Linked DNA regions of Homo sapiens: region 2 is linked to region 1. The links come from fine-mapping of genetic effects on gene expression. A gene starts in region 1. The other region holds a variant in brackets. All regions are shown on one strand. Distances are between the middles of the regions. Region 1 holds the start of OTUD1 (OTU deubiquitinase 1). Region 2 has its middle 360 kb from the start of KIAA1217.

Region 1 (2,902 bases):
CTCCGCCAAGTGCTCTTCGCCCCACGGACCGGGGCCGGGATCGGGGCTCCCCGGGGTCGCCGCGGGGCCTCGGTGCTTGGCGGCGGCCAGGGCCTGGCGGTGCTCGCTCAGTCGGAAGTTCCGATCGGGCCCCTCCCGTGTCGCGTCCAAGCCCGCGGGCTCGGGGCAGTCGGGCCGCAGCAGCTCCTCCAGGAGCCAGGCCGAGGAGCCCCGCCGCGGCGGGACCGGGGCTGCGGGCGCCGGGGCGAGCAGGAGGCAGCGGCCGCGCGGGGCAGCGGCGGAGCCCGCGGCGCCGGGAACGGGATCGGGCCCGTGCAGCAGGAGCCTGTCGGCGCCCAGGGCCCGCACGGTGATCTGTGCGGTGGACGTGTAGTGCGGCGGCAGCGGCGGCTTGCAGGACGCGCCGGGCGGGCCGGCGGCGGCGGAGGCGGGCGCGGCGGCCCCGGACACCACCTCGAAGCAGGAGGAGAAGGCGGGCATCTTGGCGGCGGGGACAGCGGCGGCTTCCCGGTGCTCGGCGGCCGCGGCGGGCTGGCACTCACCGGTCTCGGGCTCGGGCGCGGCGCCGGCGGCTCCCGGGGGCTGCAGCGAGACCTTGAAGGGGGTAGCGGCGGCGGGTGGCGCGGGGGCGGCGGCCGTGGGACCCGGGGCCCCGGCGGGGTAGTGGGTGCAGACGCTGCTGTAGAGCTGCATGTCCCTGCCCGCCGCTCGGCCCCTTATAGGCGCGGCGAGCCCCGGAGCGGGGGACACACCCTCCGGGCCCGGGGGAGGGGGCCGGCGGAGCGCGGTGACCCAACGGCCCCAGAATAGAGATGAGCGAAAGGCAGCCGGCCGCCGCGAGTCAGCAGCCGCGAATAGCGCCCGGGTCCCGGCCAAATTCCTGCTGCGCCACAGCGCAGGGGGGCGGGGACGGGACGCGAGCTCGACCCCTGCCGGTGCGCTCGGCCCGCAGACCCGGGGCGCCGCGCCCGCTGCAGCTGCTTCGGCCCGCGGCGGCCGCTGGGGACTCACGGAGGAAGCCGCCCGCCCCGTTGGAGCGCGTCCCGCCGGCGAGGAGGAGCGCGGTGCGCGCGGAGGCCCGGGAGGCGGGGCCGCGGTTGTTTACCTCAGGCCTCGCGGCCGCGTCACGTGGACTCACTGGAATGCGCGGCTCTTTGCGGCGCCCGATTCAGTCGCGCCTGCTCGCCCCGCCCACTCCGGCCCGCGCCCCGCCCCCTACCGCGCTCCGCCGACGTCACGGGCGTGGCCCTCGGCGCGCGAGCGCGCGCGGGCGGGGCGAGGCCGGGGGCGCGGAGGCCTGAGCAGTCCTGGGATCCTGGCTGGGCCTCCCGCCCACGTGACTCCCACGGACCGCTTCCCCCACCTGGGCACTGGGCACTGGTTTCTGCGCTGCGCCACTCTCCTCAGCGGCTGCAGTGGATGCTGCGGGATGGGAGCTGCTTGGGGCGAGTTAGCATGCTCGGAAAGCTTGCGTGGCAGGAAAGCTTCCGGCATGGGTGTGGAGAACGGAATGCTGCCTTAAAGTCTGTTTGGCCTCTGCTGGTCATGGGCTACCATCCCTGCTTGCATTCACTACTGCCTCTTTTCTTTTATCTTTTTAGAGATGGGGGTCTTACCTGTCTCCGAAGCTAGAGTGTAGTGGCGCAGTCCATAGCTCACTGCAGCCTTGACTTCCCGGGCTCAAGCGATCCTCCCGCCTCAACCTCCAGAGTAACTGGAAACCACAGGTGTGCACCACCGCACCCGGCTAATTTTCTTTCTTTCTTTCTTTCTTTTTTTTTAAGGCGAGGGTCTCACCACAGTTGCCCAGTCTGGTGTCGAACTACTGGCCTCAAGCTGTTTCCCGCCTCGACCTCCTAAAGTGTTGGGATTATGGGTCCTAGCCACCACTCGTGGAACCGCCGCGTCTTTTCCTTTTTTTTTTTTTCTTTTTCTTTTTGAGGCAAGGTCTTGCTCTGCCTTCCAGGCTGAGTGCAGTGGCGCCATCATGTCCCACTGCGACCTCGACCTCCAGGGCCCAAGTGATCCCCCTTCCTCAGCCTTGCCTTGGGCAGGGATTACAGGTGCCCAGCTAGTTTTACCACTGTGTCTTTTCTATGCATTTCCTTGGACTCACCGGTAAGGGTGAGTCCGCTAGTGGATTCTCTTGCCTTGCTAAGACAAAACCAACTTTGCACCTCTGACCTATGCCATTTGGCAAATATCTGGCTTGGGGGAAAGCAAGGAAGCCTTTTAGGCTTTTATAAACAAGCTTTCTCAGAATACCAAATGCAGTATCACTTAGGGCCCTTTGAGAATAGGTGTGAATGCTAGCCAGAGGTCAAAAGCGGTGGAGAAAGTCGTGACCTGCATTCCGGGGCAAGATAGACTATAGAAAATACTTCTACCGAGTCTTTTTGTAATACCCGCCTTTGTAAGGGAAAGCCAGAGGTAGTGGGAGACTTTTGCTATATTCTGAGCTGTGATCAAATGCTAAATTAACAGGGCCTAAACATTCGAATTGAACCCAGAGGTTGTCCTAACATTTTAGAGATAGGGAGACTGAACCTGTAGGTGATGTAGGCTGTACTCCGGTCCCCACCTTTCCGGTGGAATGTGAATTCCAGGAATTGAGAGACTTGGGTCTTGCTCTTATATTTCCATCCCCTAACACCGTGCTTGGCACATAATTGGACCTAATTAATATTTACTAAGTGAATGAGTAGATGGAAAGCGAGTTTCCAAGGTTTGTCAGACAGTGGTGAAGCCAAGATTACTATCCAGGTCCCTTGACCCTAGCCAGGGCTTTTAATTATCTTTGGGCAGTATGACTGGCAGGGTCCCAGCTCAGGTCACTCCAGCCGCTTATGTAAATTAACTCAGAAGAAGGTAAATGACTGTCTAACTTTTCAAATTCTGGTAA
Region 2 (2,902 bases), 410 kb before region 1:
AGGCAGGGGTTGCAATCCTAGACTCTGATAAAACAGACTTTAAACCAACAAAGATCAAAAGAGACAAAGAAGGCCATTACATAATGGTAAAGGGACCAATTCAACAAGAAGAGCTAACTATCCTAAATATATATGCACCCAATACAAGAGCACTCAGATTCATAAAGCAAGTCCTGAGTGAACTACAAAGAGACTTAGACTCCCACACGATAATAATGGGAGACTTTAACACCCCACTGTCAAAATTAGACAGATCAACGAGACAGAAAGTTAACAAGGATACCCAGGAATTGAACTCAGCTCTGCACCAAGCGGATCTAATAGACATCTACAGAACTCTCCACCCCACATCAACAGAATATACATTTTTTTCAGCACCACACCACACCTACTCCAAAATTGACCACATAGTTGGAAGTAAAGCACTCCTCAGAAAATGTAAAAGAACAGAAATTATAACAAACTGTCTCTCAGACCACAGTGCAATCAAACTAGAACTTAGGATTAAGAAACTCACTCAAAACCACTCAACTACATGGAAACTGAACAACCTGCTCCTGAATGACTACTGGGTACATAATGATATGAAGGCAGACATATAGATGTTCTTTGAAACCAACGAGAACAAAGACACAACATATCAGAATCTCTGGGACACATTCAAAGCAGCATGTAGAGGGAAACTTATAGCACTAAATGCCCACAAGAGAAAGCAGGAAAGATCCAAAATTGACACCCTAACATCACAATTAAAAGAACTAGAAAAGCAAGAGCAAACACATTCAAAAGCTAGCAGAAGGCAAGAAATAACTAAAATCAGAGCAGAACTGAAGGAAATAGAGACACAAAAATCCTTCAAAAAATTAATGAATCCAGGAGCTGGTTTTTTGAAAGGATCAACAAAATTGATAGACTGCTAGCAAGACTAATAAAGAAGAAAAGAGAGAAGAATCAAATAGATGCAATAAAAAATGATAAAGGGGATATCACCACCAATCCCACAGAAATACAAACTACCATCAGAGAATGCTATAAACACCTCTACGCAAATAAACTAAAAAATCTAGAAGAAATGGATAAATTCCTCGACACACACACCCTCCCAAGACTAAACCAGGAAGAAGTTGACTCTCTGAATAGACCAATAACAGGCTCTGAAATTGTGGCAATAATCAATAGCTTACCAACTAAAAAGAGTCCAGGACCAGATGGATTCACACGCGAATTCTACCAGAGGTACAAGGAGGAATTGGTACCATTCCTTCTGAAACTATTGCAATCAATAGAAAAAGAGGGAATACTCCCTAACTCATTTTATGAGGCCAGCATCATCCTGATACCAAAGCCAGGCAGAGACACAACCAAAAAAGAGAATTTTAGACCAATATCCTTGATGAACATTGATGCAAAAATCCTCAATAAAATACTGACAAACCGAATCCAGCAGCACATCAAAAAGCTTATCCAACATGATCAAGTGGGCTTCATCCCTGGGATGCAAGGCTGGTTTAATACATGCAAATCAATAAATGTAATCCAGCATATAAACAGAACCAAAGACAAAAACC[G/A]CATGATTATCTCAATAGATGCACAAAAGGCCTTTGACAAAATTCAACAACTCTTCATGCTAAAAACTCTCAAAAAATTAGGTATTGATGGGACGTATCTCAAAATAATAAGAGCTATCTATGACAAACCCACAGCCAATATCATACTGAATGAGCAAAAAGTGGAAGCATTCCCTTTGAAAACTGGCACAAGACAGGGATGCCCTCTCTCACCACTCCTAGTCAACATAGTGTTGGAAGTTCTGGCCGGGGCAATTAGGCAGGAGAAGGAAATAAAGGGTATTCAATTAGGAAAAGAGGAAGTCAAATTGACCCTGTTTGCAGGTGACATGCTTGTATATCTAGAAAACCCCATTGTCTCAGCCCAAAATGTCCTTCTGCTGATAAGCAACTTCAGCAGTCTCAGGATACAAAATCAATGTACAAAAATCACAAGCATTCTTATACACCAGCAACAGACAAACAGAGAGCCAAATCATGAGTGAACTCCCATTCACAATTGCTTCAAAGAGAATAAAATACCTAGGAATCCAACTTACAAGGGACGTGAAGGACCTCTTCAAGGAGAACTACAAACCACTGCTCAATGAAATAAAAGAGGATACAAACAAATGGAAGAACATTCCATGCTCATGGGTAGGAAGAATCAATATTGTGAAAATGGCCATACGGCCCAAGGTAATTTACAGATTCAATGGCATCCCCATCAAGCTACCAATGGCTTTCTTCACAGAATTGGAAAAAAACTACTTATAGTTCATATGGAACCAAAAAAGAGCCCGCATCGCCAAGTCAATCCTAAGCCAAAAGAACAAAGCTGGAGGCATCACCCTACCTGACTTCAAACTATACTACAAGGCTACAGTAACCAAAACGGCATGGTACTGGTACCAAAACAGAGATATAGATCAATGGAACAGAACAGAGCCCTCAGAAATAGCGCCGCTTATCTACAACTATCTGATCTTTGACAAACCTGAGAAAAACAAGCAATGGGGAAAGGATTTCCTATTTAATAAATGGTGCTGGGAAAACTGGCTAGCCATATGTAGAAAGCTGAAACTGGATCCCTTCCTTACACCTGATACAAAAATTAATTCAAGATGGATTAAAGACTTAAACTTTAGACCTAAAACCATAAAAACCCTAGAAGAAAACCTAGGCATTACCATTCAGGACATAGGCGTGGGCAAGGACTTCATGTCTAAAACACCAAAAGGAATGGTAACAAAAGCCAAAATTGACAAATGGGATCTAATTAAATGAAAGAGCTTCTGCACAGCAAAAAAAAACTACCATCGGAGTGAACAGGCAACCCACAAAATGGGAGAAAA

The links. PIP is the estimated chance that this variant, and not a neighbour inherited with it, causes the effect.
Region 2: its variant is fine-mapped to the expression of OTUD1 in whole blood (TOPMed, PIP above 0.99).

Annotation. Positions count from the first base shown.
Region 1 is chr10:23,437,249-23,440,150 of GRCh38, reverse strand. It overlaps OTUD1 (OTU deubiquitinase 1), which reads right to left and starts at 1,076. Exons shown (of 1, transcript NM_001145373.3): 1 at 1-1,076. The coding sequence starts at 693. RefSeq lists silencers at 1-227, 368-707, 758-1,347.
Region 2 is chr10:23,851,943-23,854,844 of GRCh38, reverse strand. It overlaps a transcript of KIAA1217 not described here. Among named protein-coding and RNA genes, the nearest start is that of KIAA1217, 360 kb to the left of the region's middle. The variant G/A (reference allele first, on the strand shown) is at 1,569.